Homo sapiens: one gene and its partners. The protein of the gene in region 3 interacts with the protein of the main gene of each other region in a biochemical or structural test. Each region holds a gene or a part of one and is shown on either strand. Other genes may lie near its edges.

Region 1 (7,039 bases), on a different chromosome or scaffold from region 3:
CTATTACAAGTAACAATGATAAAAGTGAGAAGTTCCGAAAAAGAGAAAGTAAGTTAAAGTATTGAATAGTAGTAGAGAAGAGTTAAGCAAACCATGGTACACACTCAGTTATTCCTTTACGGTGTTTCGTCAACTCCAAGACTCCATCCTTTATAAGACACAATTTTACTTTACATACAATTAGGAAAAAAAAAACATGCTGGCAAATAAACTAACACAAATGCTTTCTTTGCACATAAACTTTAATTGTATTTAAAAATTACTTTTATCAGGCTGTGTACAGTGGTTCATGCCGGTAATCCCAGCACTTTGGGAGGCCGAGGTAGGCAGATCGCCTGATGTCAGGAGTTCGAGACCAGTTTGGCCAACATGGTGAAACCCTGTCTCTACTACAAATACAAAACTTAGCTGGGCTTGGTGGCATGTGCCTATAACCAGCTACTCAGGAGGCTGAGGCACAAGAATCGCTTTAGAGGGTGATGCCATGGGCAGGGCAGAGCATCTGGGGTCTTTTGGGAGCCTCCAATCCCCAACAGTTTCGCAGAACACTGATATCTATGGACTCTAAAATGGGCTTCATTTAAAGAAACCCACAGACCATTAATGGACAAAAACATGAATCTATATGTATTGTGACATTCCAGTCCTGGCACTGTGGGAGAGCATCAAGTACCACGTTTTTGAAGACCATGGCCTATCATCATTATGCGTTCAAGATCTGAGTTTGAATAACCTCATCAAGACTTAGATCTTCTTCAAAAGCTTCAAGTCTCATCTGCATTAAAGCTCTCCATTGAACCCTCTCACAAAAGTGCAAACTTAAAGGGACTAAAATCCGTTAACACATTCCATTTTATATCCCTTCTTCTGACTTCTCTTCAATTTCCTTGGCCTCTGGGGCCCTTTATATTGCTTATGTTCCTTTAGGGCCAAAGTGACAGTGCTTTCCAAAAAAAAAAATATGTATTCTGTGGCCATAAGTTTACAGAGAAGCATAAATTTAGCATGATGAATTTAGAATTAGGTCTTTTATGGTATTCTGTAAAAAGTTGAATTAATAATAAGAAAATGAGGATGAAGCAGTAAAAATATTTTGGGTTAGAATATACTCTCCAAAGCTATGTGGTTTAGAGAAAAGGGCCCCCAACCTAAAAGTTAATAGTTCTTATTCTGTCTCTGCCTTTTACTAGGTAACTGAGAAAGTCACTTAACCTCTCTGAACCTTAACTTCATTATCTATAAAGCGTAACTGATATTTTCCCCTCCCTACCTCACAGGGTTGTTGTGAGGAACAAGTGAAACAATGTACATAAAAAGACATATAAAATGTATAATACAGACAAAGGGTCCTGTTACGTAGTTGGAAGTCATTCCCTCAGATCTTGGGCCTAGGAAGATAGGTGATTTAAGCTCACTGAAAGCATGTACCATGTCCAGGCTGAATACATGGTAACAAGGCTATGTTACATTTTTTTTTTCCCTGAGTTGAGTACCTAAAATACCACATGGGCTAATTCTAAGAAGGAGCACCACTATATATTTCCCTAAAATTATAGCTTAGCATTGTTAATGCTCTAGAGCAGTTATGCATTGTAACATATTAGTGATTTGTGAAAGATTTTTACTAAAACGTGACCAGCATTTTTCTTTAAATGAAAGAATGTAGAATATTTCACAATGCATCCCATGTGATGAGAAAAAATATTTTTTTTAGTTATATGTACATATGCATGTGTGTGAATGTGTGTGTGTACTTGGTCATTAAATAAAATGTACTTTTTCTTCTTGTGGGAAAAAAAAAAAAGAATTGCTTTAGCCCGGGAGGTGGAGGTTGCAGTGAGCCAAGACTGCGCCTGTGTGACAGAGTGAGATTCTGTTTCAAAAAATTAAAAAATTAAAATTACTTTTATCAAAAGAATTATTTTAGGCTTAAACATAGCTTTGTGTGTTTCTTGTTAAGTATCATTCATGAATACAAAAAAAAAAAAAAGGAAAAACAAGTGAAATAAATAAACTGGTTTGTTCAGGTATTCCTAAAGTTTCTTCCCATTCAGAGCCCAACACTGAGTCATTGATGTCTACACAATATCATCCTCTGTGTCTTCCAAAACAATGGTAATGTGGCAATTCTTAGAGTCCTCTACTACTCTTCCTGGAGTTTTCTTTCAAGCCATGAATACTTATTCTGCAAAGGCCCATGATACACAATCTATTTGCACGTATTCCAGAAAAAAAAAAATGACCCAGTCTCACCAACTTGAGGGTAGGTGGTACCTTCCTTTCTGTGGCTATGAAGAATTTGGTTGCTTGACATGGAATTAGGAAATTCCAGTCCTTCCTCCAACAACAAATATTTGCTCCCTTATTATGAAATTTACTCGTCGTTGTCCTGTTTCTGTGCCTGTGTTCACAAAAGCTTTTCTTTTCAGTGCTAAATCACACTATCTTTTTGAAAATATTTTTAAAACAATTAAACTCAACAAATATAGTACCAGCAATGCACTTACCTCATAATGAACTGCCATGATGGTTTACTCATACAGATAGTGACATCTAAGTGAAGGTAACCTGGCTGACAGCTATTGTAAGAAGCATCCCAATTTCAGAGACGTGAACATTTGAAAAAATATTCATCTTGAAGTAGATGAATATGGTATTATCTTATTTCCAAGTTCTCTTTATTTTTTATTTTTATTTTTAGAGACAGGGTCTCACTGTGTTGCCCAGACTGGAGTACACTGGCACCATCTCGGCTCACTGCAACCTCTGCCTACTGGGTTCAAGCAATTCTGGTGTCTCACCCTCCAGAGTAGCTGGGACTGATTACAGGAACGCACCACCATGCCCAGCTAATTTTTGTATTTGTAGTAGAGATGAGTTTCACCATGTTGGCCAGGCTGGTCTCAAACTCCTGACCTCAAGCGATCCTCCTGCCTCAGCCTCCCAAAGTGCTGGGATTACAGGCCTGAGCCACCACGCCCAGCCCCAAGTTTCTTTAAAGAACAATTACTACCTTTATAATCAGAAGTTAACTAAACTTTTTTTTGAGAAACTAAACCAAGTATTATGCAGCCACTGAAAATTAGTTTTTAAAGACTACAGAATAACAGGAGAAAATGTCATGATACAACATTAGAGGAAAAGGGCAAGAAAAAAGCAGAGTATAAAATTTGATGCACTACATGACAACAATCTGAAACACATACACATCAAAGGCACTGAAAAGAAATCCACAAAAATGTTAACTACAATTACATGAATAGGTAGAATATATATATATATACACCCACACATATATATGTACGTATATGTATATACACACATATAAGTATATATGTTATATATATACACACATACATATGTGTATATATATGTGTGTATATATGTTATATATATACACACATACATATGTGTATATATATGTGTGTGTATATATATATATATATATATATATATATACTTTAACATTTGTTGCCCCCAGGAGGGGAACTGGATGGCACACATTCCAGCAAGAAAAAGTGACCCCACTTTAGATGACTAGAGATGAGTTTTTTAAAAACTGAATTTTGGGGGCATTTTCCAAATTTTCTTTAATTTTCTTTTTTTCTATTATTATTTTTTTATTATGTATTTTATTTTTATTATTTTTTTGAGACAGGATTTCGCTCTGTCACCCAGGTTGGAGTGCCGTGGCGCCATCTTGGTTCACTGCAACCTCCATCTCCTGGGTTCAAGCGATTCTTATGCCTCAGCCTCCCGAGTAGCTGAGATTACAGGCACCTACTAATATGCCCGGCTAATGTTTGTATATTTAGGAGAGACAGGGTTTTGCCATGTTGGCCAGGCTTGTCTCAAACTCCTGGCCTCAAGTGATCCATCCACCTCGGCCTCCCAAAGTGCTGAGATTACAGGCGTGAGCCACCCTGCTTAGCCAGGTATTTTCCAAATTTTCTTTAAAGTACATGTATTGCAAAATATATGTGTTAAATATGTATTGATATAGTTTGGATCTGTGTTCCCACACAAAACTCTTGTCAAATTGTAATCTCCAACGTTGAGGGTGGGGCCTGGTGGGAAGTGATTGGTTTAGTACAATCCACTTGGTATTATCCTCTTCTCACAAGATCTGGTTGTTTCAAAGTATGTCATGGGCCAGGCACAGTGGCTCACTTTGTGCCTGTAATCCCAGCACTTTGGGAGGCCAAGGCGGGTGGATCACGAGGTCAGGAGATCGAGACCATCCTGGCTAACATGGTGAAACCCCGTCTCTCCTAAAAATACAAAAAATTAGCTGGGTGTGGTGGCAGGCGCCTGTAGTCCCAGCTACTCAGGGAGGTTGAGGCTGGAGAATGGTGTGAACCTGGGAGGCAGAGCTTGCAGTGAGCCGAGATCGTGCCACTGCACTCCAGCCTGGGCGACAGAGCAAGACTCTGTCTCAAAAAAAAAAGTGTGTCATGGCCAGGCACAGTGGCTCATGCCTGTAATCCCAGCACTTTGGGAGGCCCAAGTGGGTGGATCGCTTGAGCTCAGGAGTTCAAGACCAGCCTGGCAACATGGCAAAACCCCGTCTCTACTAAAAATACAAAAAAAAGTAGCCAGGCATGGTGGCACACACTACTCCAGAGGCTGACACAGGAGAATCAGTTGAACCAGAGAGACGGAGGCTGCAGTGATCAGAAATTGCACCACTGCACTCCAGCCTGGGTGACAGAGACCCTGTCTCAAAAATAAATAAATAAATAAATAAAAGTGTGGAGCACCTCCCCTTGTTCTCTCTCTTGCTCCTGTTCTGGCCATGTGACATGCCTGCTCTGCCACCCCCCCCGCCCCCCCACCCCGGTTTGCCTTCCACAGTGAGTGTGAGTTTCCCCTCCTCTGAAGCAGAGCAGACACTAGTGCCATACTTCCTGTACAGCCTGCGGAACTGTGAGCCAATTAAAACTCTTCTTCCTAAATTACCTCATCTCAGGTTTTCTGTTTTGTTTGTTTGTTTGTTTTTTAAGATACGGTCTTACTCTGTCACCCAGGTTGGAGTGCAGTGGCACGATATCGGCTCACTGCAACCTCCACCTCTGTCTGGCTCAAGCGATCCTTCCACCTCAGCCACCTGAGTAGCTGGGACCATAGGCACATGCCAAGAACCATGCCTGTCTAATTTTTTCTATTTTTGGTAGAGCTGGGGTTTTGCCATGTTGCCCAGGCTGGTCTTGAACTCCTGAGCTCAGGCCATCCACCTGCCTTAGCCTCCCAAAGTGCTAGGATTACAGGCATGGGCCACCTCATCCAGCCTTCAGGTATTTCTTTTTTTCTTTTTTTTTTTTTTGAGACAGAGTCTCACTCTATCACCCAGGCTGGAGTGTAGTGGCATGATCGCTCACTGAAACCTCTGCCTCCCGGGTTCAAGCAAGTCTCCTGCCTCAGCCTTCCAAGTAGCCAGGATTACAGGCACATGCCACCATACCCAGCTAATTTTTGTATTTTTAGTGGATATGGGGTTTCACCATGTTGACCAGGACCTAACCTCAGATGATCTGCCCGCCTCAGCCTCCCAAAATGCTGGGATTACAGACATGAGCCACTGTGCCTGGCCAGGTATTTCCTAACAGCAATGCAAGAATGGACTAATACACGTATCAAAGAGAAAAAAAACCATTAAAAAATTGAAATGCTGCCACATATAACCCTGTCCTGGTTGAGAACAGTGGCTCACACCTGTAATCCCAGCACTTTAGGAGGCTGAGGTGGGAGGATTACATGAGCCTAGGAGTTTGAGACCAGCCTGGGCAACATGGTGAAATCCACTCTCTACAAAAAATTTTAAATTAGCCAGATGTGGTGGCAGGCACCTGTAATCCCAGCTACTGGGAAAGCTAAGTGGGAGGACTGCTTGAGCCCAGGAGGTCAAGGCTGCAGTGAGCTATGATTGAGCCACTGCACTACAGCCTAGGTAACAGAGCAAGACCCTGTCTCAAAAAACTAACTAACTAACTAACTAACTAAAAAGTGCATCTAAAAATATTCAATTTGAAACATTCATTTGAAAACATTTTTTTAAAGGGTTGAAGTTGGTTAGAAAGGGCTGTGGATTGGAAACTAAGGGGGCAGCTAGTAGACACCACACACCTGGCTCAGGCTTGCATACTGCTGGCTACCTGCTCAGCACCCATCCGCCTTCCTCCTTTCTGAAGGACTGCTGTTCAGTTCTGGTCAACTCACTGTCAGCTCCAGGTCTAAGAGTAACCAGACTCCTTGCCACTCATTGGTTTCGGAATGAGCATGAGACATAATTCATAACAAGGCAAAGGGAAAAAAAGATCTGCTGGGCTTTCTGAGAATATTCTTATCAGTTCTTCTGGAAGCAGTTGTCTCTATTACTCCCAGATGTCCAGCAGGCTGTGTGTTCCAGAGCCATTCAGCCCAGAGTGACACAGGAACAGACCAGGAGAGGGGGACTGAGTTGCTCCCAAAGTCCTGCCACAGGACCTCCAATTCCATGCACAAGGGCAGCTCAGCCTCTGTCACTTGCAGCCAAGACATCCTAACTAGTGGTGGCCCAATGGTGCCATCTCACCACGGCAGGCTTGACACACTTTTAAAGTTGTATTTCCTACAATTCTGTTGTTTTTCCCCAGGAATTGCTACAGAATTTGCAGGGCCTTGTGAATGTGAAAATGTAGGGTCTCAAGTTCGATAATTATTAAGAATTTCCTGATAGTGACAGCAGAGCATAAAACCAAAGGCAGAGCCCATCCAAGCCTGGGGCCCTGTGAGAGTGAATGCGTCACACACACATGAAGCCAGCCCTGACCTTGATTCTTGTTTTGCTTTTGTTTTAAGACAGGGTCTCACTCTGGTTGCCCAGGCTGGAGTGCAGTGGTGAGGCTCACTGCAGCCTTGACCTCCTGGGCTCAGGTGATTCTCCCACCTTAGCCTCCTAAGTAGCTGGGATTACAGGTGTGTGTCACCACGCTTGGCTAATTTTTTTTTTAATTTTTATTTACTTTTTTTTTTTTTTTTTAAGACAGAGTCTCGCTCTGTC
Region 2 (7,039 bases), on a different chromosome or scaffold from region 3:
CAAGAGACTCACATTTTTAGTTTCTCTTCTGCTGTCCTGAATTAACTGTTAAAAGATATGTTAAAACATGCAATTTAACAAGCAAAATTTAAATACCAATGGGTTGAAATTCAAAAAGTGCAGGATAATTTCCTCTTTAAATTACTTTTTCTGTGTGCATCTTCTATATTGCAAGCAAAAGCATGTCAACAATATAAACTATGCATTGCATTGTTATATAATTTTAAAATATATATTAGACTAAAGTGATCTGACCTTAGCACAGTATCCCATATTAATATTCTTCTATTCAGTGTATTGTTTCCAGAAGATTATGTTGTACCAGAGAACAAGGCATGCAGGCTTAGATTAAGAATCAGAACAGACCTTGCCATCAGCCTCAGCAGAAGCAGCGGGGGAGGGCTCCTGGGAGGCAGGTGCCAAAGCACTTGGAACTTTAGAAGACTAAAGGCAAAAAATCCAGGGGGGAAAAAAAATCAAGGATGCAAAAATGCATTCAGGAACATTCTATAAATGAATTTTTCCCTTCTGTAATGAAATCGTAAAATAACATGAAAGATGAAAATAATCATGGGAGATTGTTTATTCTGCCTTATTTCCTTCACCATTGTCACCTTTGTTAAAAGTTTCCTTCAGATGAATACATAAGAAAAATCCAAATCCAAAAGCTTCATTTTTATTTTTGGTATTTAATAAGATTCTTTTCTGGCAAAGAATTCAAGGTAAAAGATTTTTATACACACTTTAGTATTACAACTATTTTAATTATTACTAGTAATTAAAACCTCTGTTCTGTGCATACTGTTTTTTCCAAGAAACCCTCTTATTATAATAAAATCTTGAGTCATTTCAGCTATGTGCAAAGTTGATAAAGTCACTGACTGAATTTTTTTAAAAAGCTTGATGCTTAAATGCTTAAATAAATGCTTAAATCTACTTTTAAGCATTTATGTCAGTGAATTCAAAATACTATTATCTTTAAATCACTCAAAACCCATTTTAAACTTGTATGCCTTTACTCAGTTAGTTCCAATGGAGTGTTAAAGGGAGGAAAAGAAGAAAAAATTACTCCTAGGACTGAGTAATATTCTGAGCTCATCAATCTATCTTTAGGTATTGGGAATATGCATTAAAAACATTTTTTTACCTTGTCTCGTGATACAGCTGAAGGTAATTCTCTGGCTAGCCTGTTTCTCCTTTGTTCCTAAGAAACACAAGCAAAACAAAAGTGATTATCCAAGTATTGAGATATATGCCTACTAAAAAATGTTCATGTTAATTGAAAAGTGTGGAGTAACTTACAGATACATCCTCTCACTGTTGGGACTCATGCCATAATTATCATATTTTAAAATAAATAAGAAATCATTTAACCCAAAGCTTCTTAATCTTTTTTTTTTCTGCCCACACACCTGAAGGATACAATACACTGTCAGTAACAGTGGCTCCCTGTACTGGGGATTCTCAAATGAGGGGCAACAGACTGCCATCTTCTCCCCCTTTCCCACTAAGAAACAGTGATGTAAACTGTCCTCACATAAATGTGGAACGTGGTAAGCCTTCAACATAACCATGTGGAATTTGAAGTCCAGAGATCACAGAAAACTCCGCAAAGCCTTTAAAAGTCACTCTAACCTGAACACCTTTGTGTTAAACTCAAACAACTCCCCTCATAAAACCGTATCTTGAAGAAGTATCTGTGGTTGAGGTTATCCTATAAAAATGTTCCATTTCTTCCTCCAGGAAATAGTGTTGACAACTGCTAGTCCTTTCTGTAACCTGGCTAATTTAACACACTGATCAATTGCCTACTGTTCTAATTTGCTAATATTATCAAAGTAACTTGTACAAAGCTAAAGAAACTGACAAATTCAAATTAGAATGTCCCGAGCATCTGCTATATCCAAGCACCAAGATAGGTAAAAGATTATGAAAATATTGGCCGGGCACAGTGCCTCATGCTTGTAATCCCAGCACTTTGGGAGGCCAAGGTGGGCAGATCACTTGAGGGCAGTTCAAGACCAGCCTGGCCAAAATGGTGAAACCCTGTCTCTACTAAAAATATAAAAATTAGCCAGGCATGGTGCCGCACACCTGTAATCCCAGCTACTCAGGAGGCTGCGGCAGGAGAACTGCTTGAACCCAGGAGGCAGAGGTTGCAGTGAGCAGAGCTCATGCCACTGCACTCCAGCCTGGGCGACAGAGTGAGACTCTGTCTTAAAAAAAAAAAAAAAAAAAAAAGATTATGAAGATATAGAAATCTGTAGATGTTAATTAATGATGGATCTCTCACAGGCAGCATCAGATAAAGTAGAAACTATTTAGGTTAAAGTCACAATTGCTCCTAAGTAGGAAGTATTTCATGAACACAGTCCAACTTGCAAAAAAATATAAGTTAAAGCCTCACAATGATTTTGTTTTTGTTTTTTGTTGAAATGGAGTCTCGCTCTGTCGCCCAGGCTGGAGTGCAGTGGTGTGATCTTGGCTCACTGCAACCTCCGCCTCCTGGATTCAATGGATTCTCCCTGCTGCAGCCTCCCTACTAGCTGGGATTACAGGCATCCACCACCCCCGGCTAATTTTTCTATTTTTAGTAGAGACAGTTTTGCCACGTTGGCCAGGCTAGACTTGAACTCCTGACCTCAGGTGATCAGCCTGCCTCGGCCTACCAAAGTGCTGGGATTACAGGCATGAGCCACCGCACACAGCCCACAGTGATGTTTCATGTGTAATAATTTTTTTTGACAGAAATTTGACCCAATTTTATTTTTTCATGGGCGGGTATTCAGTAATAAAAAATAACAGATAATAAAAGTATAGATATTAACAATCTTCAAAATAAAAAATTAGCATGATAAAATGTACATTTTGAACAGGGATACAAAGCAAAAGGCCACGGTATCTAGAATTCTCACCCTAGTCTGTTACTAACCAGTTATGATCTGAGCTGCTCCTGGACCCCAGCAGATGTGGAGTACCTGCTTTGCTAACTGGACAGCTTACCAACTATTTTGAAGCCCTAGTGTCCTAATCTGTTAATGACATGATCTGCCCTCAGGGTATGGTAAAGATTAAATGAAAATATCCACATAAAGTTCTCTGGCACAGTCATTAAAACCAGAAACCTATTCATTTGTAGAAAAATACTAATCTGAAATCATATCACATATGACCTTGTCAGTGTAACAGAACTACCGCAAACACAAGTTTTTCATGATGTTAGTTTCAATGTAAAAAAAACTAAATCCTTTAAGTGTCTACATGCTAATTTTTAACATAACTGTGATCTGGCCTACTTTCTGAGTGTTTTGAAGTGCCTACTCATGTATGCATTTTGGAATTTTTTCTGATAACAGGAATCACCCCCAGCTATGTAACCAAAAATTAGTTCCCTATACCTGTGTTAAGAAGGTGCTTGCTTCCTATAATAGTGCCCTGCAAAATAAGCACCAAAGGAATAACTGCTATCTGTAAGCCTCAAGCTCCCCAGTTTTTTTTTAAGATGGAGTTTCGCCCTTGTTGCCCAGGCTGGAGTGCAATGGCGCGATCTCAGCTCACTGCAACCTCCACCTCCTGGGTTCAAGTTGATTCTCCTGCCTCAGCCTCCCTAGTAGCTCAGATTACAGGCACCTGCCACCAAGCCCGGCTAATTTTTTGTATTTTTAGTAGAGACGGGGTTTCACCATGTTGGCCAGGCTGGTCTCAAACTCCTGATGTCAGGTGATCCACCTGCCTTGACCTCCCAAATTGCTGGGATTACAGGCATGAGCCACCACGTCTGGCCACCCCATCTGTTTTAACCAGAGTTGAAGTCAATAACACAGGATCCCTTCCAGCTTCTGAATTGCATGTTTACAATTTTCTCACCATGGATATGCAGAAGAGGAAATTTGGTATAGCAGGGGACTCAGGTCTTACTGAATTAGGGAGTAGCAGAAAAATGTACTATTTTTGGAGAAAAGCGGCAGAGAAAAAAAATGGCTTCTGGATAAATTGCTCTGTCCACCAGCCTTGGCTCCATCTGAGATCTTATTCAATTTGTTACATTAAAATCAAAAGGAAAGAAAAGATCCATGAAATGCAGCCACCCCAGTAGTGGTGAAAAAAGCACTCTGCTTTTCCAAATTTATGCTAAGTTGGTTAATTCTTGAGTGTTTCCTTCACAGCTTTCAAAGCCAAATGAAAAGAATTTTAAATACTTTGTTGTACACACTTCCCCTGTATAAACTATAAGTTACCAAAATAGAGCCAGTCACACCAAATCAATGAATTTTCAGATTCTTTCTGAATTTCAATTTCATAAGCAGAAAGTAATAATGCCTGCAGGTGGTTTTGAGAATTAAGAAAACAATGTAATCCCCTCAGCATATTTCCTGACATGCAGCAGGCACTAATGTGGCACATGTCTATTTTATAGTTACTCCATGCTAAATAAGTTTGATATAACTGAGTTACAACAGATTTTTCTACCTGTGAAAAAGCATTTAAGAATTATATTTACCTCTATATTATTGTTCATTAGCCCACAAGCATCAGCAAAGTCTGGATGTTTTGTGTTGATATAAGCCAGTTCAATTGCCACTAAGTTATGGACCTAGAAAAAAAGTAAGTTAGGCGATATACAAAAATACATCAACCATATTTTACTTTGAGAAATTTATATATAAAACTTATGAAACAGACAATACCGAAAAAGTACAGGAAACTTATGCCTAAATTACTTGATAATTATATTCCAACTGATAAATCTTATGCCAAACAATAATTTACTCTAGCTTTAAAATTATTTACATTTCAGCATCTAAAACTGCATTTCTAAGAGGGAAAAATAACATTAAAGTAACTACAAGTATTTTACTCTTAGGGAAAAATAGTCATCTACCTAATGCAAATCTAAATTCCAACACTTTATGCAACTTTGCTATTAAAACTTCAGATCATCCACTATTCCCTGTCACTTTTTTAGTTCATTTTCAACAATAAGAAAATAAGTTCGTAACAAGGCATAAGTTAAAGATGTTAACTTATTTGGGTAAAGGATACATCTAAGGACCTGAGGTAGTGACTGATTAGCCTTAACTATAAAGCACCTAGTTAAAATATTATATGTAGTTCAAAATCCTAAGAGGAAAATAAAAAAGAAAAGTTAAAATTAATTTATCCAGCCCTCTACAGAATTGCTAAGTCTTTTTGTTTGTTTGTTTGTTTGAGACGGAGTTTCGCTCTCATTGCCCAGGCTGGAGTGCAATGGCGCGATCTCGGCTCACCGCAGCCTCCACCTCCCAGGTTCAAGTGATTCTCCTGCCTGCCTCAGCCTCCCCAGTAGCTGGGATTACAGGCATGCACCACCACGCCCGGCTAATTTTGTATTTTTAGTAGAGAGGGGGTTTCTCCATGTTGGTCAGGCTGGTCTCAAACTTCCGACCTCAAGTGATCCACCCGCCTCGACTTCCCAAAGTGTTGGGATTACAGGTGTGAGCCACCACACCACTGAGTCTTACAGAGAGAATAAACTTGAGCCCTTTATTATGTGCTGTCCTAACAAATCTCAGGTATCAGAACAGCACTTATCAGTCCAGAACTGGGTAAAAAGGGTCTATTAAAATGAAGGTCCAATGATTCTGGGCTAAATTCAGTCTTAGACATCAGAATCTGAGGGCTATCCTTGCTAAAGAAACAACCAAGCAGCAGCACTTACATTCCAAGGATGGTTTTGTACTCTTAGTAAACCTCCACGGGGTTCACCATCCTGAGCCAAGGACCCAAATGCACTTTTAGTGATCAGAAAGAAAACAAAAAACAAAAAACCCAGCCAACAATTAGAGGCATGAGGGCAATTTTAAATGCTTATCCCATATTTCTGCCAATTTCAGCATTTTTATTTGTGTGGATAGCAGCAACCCACAGAATAGTAGCAAGCAACTACGATATTATAGTTATTAGGTCATAACAAGCAAACTGCAGAAGTGGCCAGATTACTCCGATGTACCTCAAAGTAACAGTGTGCTATAAATGCTCAGTTTACTGAGGCTAAAGATGGAACTAATTTTCTCTTAAGATCAGTGGTACTAAATAATACAGCAAAGCTATTCACACCCCTCAATCATAAATCTATTTTCAAGAAAACCCATGCCTGCAGGCTAACAATGATTAAAATATGAAGAAAAAATGCACTTTATACCAGAATTATTAAAAATTTTCCTTTAAAATGAGACTGAAACTCAACTTGTTTTTCCTCCCAATACACTGGAAAACATTATGCCTACACTCTAAAGTAACCATATAATGCTTATTAAAAAGCAGCCAAGCAAAAATTTAAACTTTTACTAATAGTAATTACAATGATCTATGCTATAGTAGCTCACCATTTCATTTGTAACAGGCAACCTTTTACGAAGAAGACAAGTCACCACTTCAACTATGGCATCATGAAGTTTAGGAAATCGTAACAATTCCTACAAATGGTAGATGAAAGAAAAACGTGTTTGTTTTTTGTTTTTTTTTTAAGTCATAGTCTCACTAAGCCATCCTCCCACCTTAGCCTCCCAAGTAGCTGAGACTACATGTAGAAGCCACCATGCCAGGCTAACAGTCATTTTCTTTTACTTAATGATCACAGAAATACTGAATTCAATTTGGAGACTACATTTAAGAATCCTATTTCAAATCACTTTCAGGTAAGGGAACTACAGATTTTACCTTGTATCCCATCTTATACATTTCCTTCCACCCAGTGAAACCACCACTTCATGTCCTTTTCTAGTTCATGTGAAACCTGTTACATTTCTCTCCGTTACCTGTGTACTGTAATTGCTACAGTGCTGAATGATCCTTTGCATTTCCTCATGAACCAGTTCCACACAGCGGAGGCTGGGCTCTTCTAGACGTTTGATTTGCCGCTTCACCAGTAACTCAAATGAAACCTCAGGCACAAATAAAGCAGGACGAGGACCCTGAGAAAATAAAACTTAGAACTCTTATTATATATGTAATTTCAGTTCTTCCCAAGGGTTAAGAAAGTCACATTTTTGGTACTTTT
Region 3 (6,204 bases):
CAGTGAATGTACCCTCTGGGCCTACTTCCTCACCTGTACAGCACAGACACCGGGACTCGGCCTGCAGGGGTTTTGTGAGGATGAACTCACTCTGAAATGAGTTTGAAACAGCACACGGCACAGTACCTCATACACAGTATTGCTAAATGCTCATTTCCTCTCTGCTGTCCCCCAGCACCCCATCCCCATCCCATTCTCCCAGCAGGTGAAATCTCACTGCCCTGATTTGTAGGCTGTCGGGACAGACTTCAAAGATGGTCAGCAAGGCCAGATATGACCCACGGGTGGGCTGTCCAGATTCCTCCCCAGGGGGCAGGCATCCCGGCCGGCCTCTGCATCACCCCATCTGGGGGAGCCCCAAACCACTATAGCCGAGGAAAAGAACACAGAGGCCTCAAACTCCCCCACCTTTCACTCCATTGTGGCAGGGATTCAATCCCATCCTGGGGACACTTAGGCTTAGCCATTTAACTCCTGTTAACAAAGCAACAGGCTAGCACTTGGTTGCAACATGTTTAATTTCTGCTGTTCACACTGGACACTGCATCATACTAGTGTCGGCCCCTGAGGGCACCCCTTCCTCGCCTGCACAAAGGAGGACGAGAGATGAACATTCAGAGGCAGAAAAGGGCAATAAAAAAAGAGCTGTGTATGTGACCTCCAACTACTCAGAGGTGGGGGAAAACAGCCCCATCTGTCTTGCACTAAAAGGCTCACCAAGGGCAGGTGAGGGGCAAATGGTAATACTGGGAGGGGGTAACACAAGGAGAAGCGACATGAGTACACCAAGATGTCAAAGCTGCGACGGGCTGGATGAGGGAGCCCCAAGAGGGCATATGCTCAGGGTGCCAGCCGGCTGCTTTTCCTTGTGACAGCCTTGCAAGGAAGCTGTGAGGCCAGGACACTAGGCCAGTGGCATCCACACTGCGTCCTTCAGGAGGCGAGGCCTCTGCGCCTCATTCTCCAGGAGGGAAAACCAGGGACCACCCCGAGCTCTCCCAAGTGGCAGGAGTTCAAATCAGGGCCAGTGGCGAAACCAGGAGGCCTGCCTGACCAACTGCCCTTCACATGATCTCTCTTCAATCTGTTGCCCGGGGCCCCGACCATCTGGGCAGAAGCGGATGTGCTGACTTCACTTTCTTTTGTCCTCTACACACACGTGCAGGCGTTAAGGAGGCAAGCAGGTGAGGGGAAAGGAACACAAGTTGACCTGCCCAGCCTGACAATTCTGAAGAAAGACTGTTTCCCGGGGCATGAGGAAAAAGAAGAAAAGCTGCGGCAGAGTCTCTTCGGAGGCAGCACCCAAGGCATCCGTTGTACTCGGGGCCCAGCCTTTCCTCCCCTCTGAGTCCTCCACCAAGTCCACAGCAAGCAACGATTCACCAGAAAAAAACAGAAGACACAGGAACAGAAGAGCTGCTGATCACTGGCTTTGGTGCTTAAGTGATGAGGCATTTTCAGTCACACTCGCACTGATCTGGCTCCTGGGAGGAGACGCCACGGCATCCTCCCAGGGTGAGGCTCTGATGAGGCTGCACATGGACAGGGTCCCCTCTCAGGTGGGAAAGGCAGCATCCTGCCATTGGAGGCATGGGTCTGGAGAGTTTCTACCCAATTCCTCCCTCAATCATACCTGGAGGTGACAGCTACCCCCACCACTGCTCCTCCAAAGGCCTCGAGATAAAAATCCCTGAAAAGGGGGCAGGGGTGCTTCCAGGTCAAGCTGTGCGGCTTCCAAACTATTAGCTGTTGTACAGGGGTATCACCCGGGTGATCGCCTGTCTGCAGATAGGGCACTTCTTGGGCTCTGGCAAGGCGCGGTAGCACTCGGTGCAGGAACAAACGTGCCCACACTCCAGAAAGACGCAGGACTTGAAGCTGCTCAGACACACTACACAGGCGCTCTTCAGACTCTCCCTGTCCTCAGGCTTGGCTCGGCTCAGCAGCTGGGCCTCATGCTCCTGGAACTCCTCCTGCATCTGCTTGAGGCGCAGGCGCTCCTGCCGCTGCAGATACTGCTTCCGGAGAATGAAGAAGAGGGTGGCACATGTGGCAAAGCCAAAAACCAGCGCCAGCACCTTCCAGAGCCTGACGCTCGACTCCTGCCTCTGCAGCAGGCTGTCGAAGTCCTGGCTGCTTAGATAGTACTGCATGCCTTGTTTGGGCGGCTGCAGGCGGACAGAGTTGTTGTCCAGGACCAGTTCGCCAACCCCTGTGAGGGTGGCCCCCACCTTCAGCATCTCCTCGGTCTCTTGGATGCCTTTGGGCCGCTCACCGCTGATGTAGTGGCCGATGACATCGGTGAAGGACTGAATCGAGGGGTGGAACTTCTCATACACAGTCTCTAGACCCAGATCCACTGAGTCCAGGGGCTTCAGCACTCGCACAGCCACATCCACGCCATCCTCGTGGGGCACCAGGTCAAAGGGCACTGTGTTGGTCCTCTGATGAATGATCTTTGAGCAATCATTCCTAGAAGAATAAGAGAACTAAAGATACAGGGTAGCAAACAGCAAACACCCAGGCAGAACTGGAGATCAACTAAATGTGGAGGACAGCATATGGTCTGAAGTAACTGGAAGAAGACAGTAAGATCACTATCTCCAGTTGCCTCCTAACAAGGAGGCTCCATTTGTAGGTCCTGGGGCGATATCAGTGGGCAACAAATAACCGCCACAGACTATCATTTCCCTTTCCACTGTAAAACAAACATCTAAAACAAAACTCACTAGGACCAGTTGGAAAACTGATATTTCATATGATGGCACAAAAGCATTTTAGGAAATACTGAAATCACTGATTCAGTGGTTCTCAAACTTCAGTGTGCCTAACAACAGATTCCAGGTCCCTGATCCTGGAAATTCTGGTTGGATAAGTCACCAGGGACTGACTTATCCACTTCAGGGACTGAAGGGAGCTCAGAAATCTGCATTTCAACAAGATGCCTCGGTGATTCCGACATAGGAGGCCCACAGGCTACACACAAGAATATGACCTGCATTAAGAGACTGGGCTTCAACCTGTCTCAGGAGAAGCTGAAGTCACGGCAACAGCACCCAGGACCCCAGCATTTGAATAGACCAACTGCAAGGGTTTTGGCCAGTGGAGAAGTGATACATACCAAAGGTGGGTGGTTCGATTCCACACCATCTTGTGCTCCTGAAGTGTCAGCCGCTGAATTACCCCCTTGCAGTTTTCCACAAACTGGCTGTTAAGCGTTTCTTTAACAGACCGCACAGCTCCTAAGTGGACACAAATTCTATTATTTCTGAAGAAGTTTTCTGCCCTCTCCTTTCAGATAATTTAAAATGTGTTTTCTGGTCTGGCACAGTAGGTCACACCTATAATCCCAACACTTTGGGAAGCCAAGTCAGAAGGATCACTTGGGGCCACGAGTTTGAGACCAGCCTGGTTAACACAGTGAGATTCCATCTTTACAAAAAATTAAAAAGTTAGCAGGGTGTGGTGGCATGTGCCTGTAGTCCCAGATACTTGGGAGGCTGAGGCAGGAGAATCACTTGAGCTCAGGAGTTTGAGGCTGCAGTGAGCTATGATCACACCACCATACTACAGCTACCTGGGTGACAGAGCCAAGACTCTATTTGAGACGGAGTCTCACTCTGTTACCCAGGCTGGAGTACAGTGGTGCAATCTTGGCTCACTGCAACCTCCGCCTCCCGGGTTCAAGCAATTCTCCTGCCTCAGCCCCCCGAGTAGCTGGGATTACGGGTATGTGCCACCACATCCAGCTAATTTTTGTATTTTTAGTAGAGACGGGGTTTCATCATGTCGACCAGGCTGGTCTCAAACTCCTGAGCTCAAGTGATCAGCCCATCTCAGCCTCCCAAAGTGCTGGGATTACAGGCATGAGCTACCACACCTGGCCTCAAAAAAAAATTTTTTTTTTAATTTAAAAAATGTTAAAAATTAAGTGTTTTCAGTTGACTTTTGCTAATTCATCAAAACAATGACATTCTGATCACCATAAGTCACATTTTAGAAGCACTCTCCTAAGCACTTTGCATGGATCACATAATTTGTCTTATAACAACCCCATAAAGGTAAGTATTATTTTCGAGATCAGGCAACAGTGGTTCAGGGAGGTTTGGTAATCTTAGCGATCACAAAGCAATAACCCATGTCTTTCTGACCCCAAAGTATGTTCTGGACCATGGACCCAACACCACAAAAGGCTCTTCATATTAGCCAAGATGATCTTTATCAATCTTTTGGGAAAAAGACGTTGTTTTCCATTGACCAATAAGCAAACATACCTTCTATAACAGCATAAGGCACGCATTTTCCTGGAGCTTCTGAAAGAATACTCTTTAAATCTTCACCCAAATGAACTTTTTTAGCTCCCTAAATAAAAAAAAAAAATTAAATTAATTGGCCATTGAACACTGACATGCTCAATCAAACTTACAGGCAAAAAAAAGAAAAAGATTCTATTTTTTTCGTGTCAAGAGAATATGGAAATTGGACAGGAAGGTGACTACTGAGAATCAGATTTCAAAGCTGTGTACATCAACAGGAATGGAGCCATGCCTCTGCCTCTTCCATCACTGCAGAATGGGGGTGCCACATACATTCTTGTTCCAGTTAACCAAAACCTATACTCCTTTTCATGTTAAGACTTTTTAGTGAAAATATAAAAGGTACTAGTCAATTTACATACCACAGACTGAACATCATTCAATCTCTTCCTGACAACACAGAGCTATGATCCAAAGGGTTCAGGTATAAAGTACCTAACCTATCACCTAGCACATGGCAGTGGTTTGAGAACTGGTAGGTGTTATTATTAATATTACCACATCTTTACGAACCAATGCTCTGCATTGTATGTTATTAAAAAAACAAAGCAGGGGGAGTTGCCTTTGCTTCAACAGGAAGACTGTTAACTGGTGCCAAATGCCATTCTACATTTTTTTTTTTTTTTGAGATGGGGTCTCACTGTTATACCCAGACTGGAGTGCAGTAGTGCAATCATGGCTCACTGCAGCCTCAACCTCCCAGGCTCAAGTGATCCTCCCACCTCAGGCCCCCAAGTTGCTGAGGCCATAGGCATGCACCACCACACCTGTCTAATTTTTTTATTTTGCAGAGACAGGGTCTCCCAATGTTGCCCAGGCTGGTGTTGAGCTCCTGAGCTCAAGCGATCCTCCTGCCTCGGCCTCCCAAAGTGCTGGGATTACGGGTGTGAGCCACCGCACCCAGTCTGTTCTACTTTTTGCCTTTTTCATGCTCATAATTAAGTGAGCACGGTTCTTTCTGCTGCTGTCTTCCTCTAACAATCCCTAGTTCTCCTCTGCCTTCCAACTCAGAGCGTCCAACCCACTGCACTTGGGAAACCAATCCTGTTACTGCTGTTTCAAAAATAAGAGAAAAGGAATAAAATCAACAATCATTTCCTGAGCATCTTTGTGCCAGGCACTGTGCTGGGTGTCAGAGATTCAGGACGAATAAAGGACCATCTCTGCTTTCAGGGTATTCCCAAAAACAACTCTTAAGGATGCCAGATTCAGTAACCTCTAAAGAGGTGATGTGATACAAGATGTATATGAAGGTCACTCTGAGTTTAAGCTACTGCTACACAGTAAGTGACAGGAGCAAGGTCAATCAAAATTTCTTAGCCACTTACACTGTGAAGATACCAAAATGACAGCAATAACAACTAACAATTTACTCATTATCTGTCTCCCTCCACTAGAATGTTAAACTCTAGGAGGGCTTGGACACTGTTTGTCCTGTTCACTGCTATCCCCCTAGTGCGGAGAACTGTGCCTGACACACAGCAAGCATTTAATACATTATTTGATTAATAAATTAATGAATAAGTAAGCATTTAAATATACTATGTACCAGGCAATATGCTAGGCACTTTAAATGCATAAACCACTTAATGCCCACACCATCCCTTTACGGTAGACATTATTATCACCAATTACAGACAAGGAAACAGGCTCAGAGAGGTGAAGTGATTTGCCCAAAGTGAGACAGCTAGTAAAGTATCCACCACAGGATGGCCAATTCGAATTTTAAAGGGGGAAGAGGGAGAATATGATCAGAAAGATCTGGAGTTTAATCTAGCGCCAATGCATCCACTGTGACTTGGGACAACTTCATTTATCTGAGTCTCAGGTTCCAAAACCATAAAGGACAGGGAAAATGCAATTTCACAGGATTTTTATGTGGGTTAAA

What was found. The genes of interacting proteins can lie anywhere in the genome.
Region 1: the proteins of MUL1 (region 3) and UBE2D4 form a complex in vitro, tested with the Homo sapiens proteins (one study listed by BioGRID).
Region 2: of the proteins of MUL1 (region 3) and DNM1L, one has a biochemical effect on the other in vitro, tested with the Homo sapiens proteins (one study listed by BioGRID).

Annotation. Positions count from the first base shown.
Region 1 is NC_000007.14:43,929,405-43,936,443, reverse strand, and holds part of UBE2D4 (ubiquitin-conjugating enzyme E2 D4), read right to left. Parts: intron 1-7,039. UniProt on the Homo sapiens protein: Accepts ubiquitin from the E1 complex and catalyzes its covalent attachment to other proteins. In vitro able to promote polyubiquitination using all 7 ubiquitin Lys residues, but may prefer 'Lys-11' and 'Lys-48'-linked polyubiquitination.
Region 2 is NC_000012.12:32,731,270-32,738,308, reverse strand, and holds part of DNM1L (dynamin-1-like protein), read right to left. Parts: intron 6,954-7,039; coding exon 6,798-6,953; intron 6,456-6,797; coding exon 6,366-6,455; intron 4,595-6,365; coding exon 4,502-4,594; intron 1,205-4,501; coding exon 1,148-1,204; intron 445-1,147; coding exon 367-444; intron 46-366; coding exon 13-45; intron 1-12. UniProt on the Homo sapiens protein: Functions in mitochondrial and peroxisomal division.
Region 3 is NC_000001.11:20,498,948-20,505,151, forward strand, and holds the end of MUL1 (mitochondrial ubiquitin ligase activator of NFKB 1), read right to left. Parts: intron 4,363-6,204; coding exon 4,275-4,362; intron 3,243-4,274; coding exon 3,122-3,242; intron 2,473-3,121; coding exon 1,743-2,472; 3' UTR 501-1,742; downstream 1-500. UniProt on the Homo sapiens protein: Exhibits weak E3 ubiquitin-protein ligase activity. E3 ubiquitin ligases accept ubiquitin from an E2 ubiquitin-conjugating enzyme in the form of a thioester and then directly transfer the ubiquitin to targeted substrates.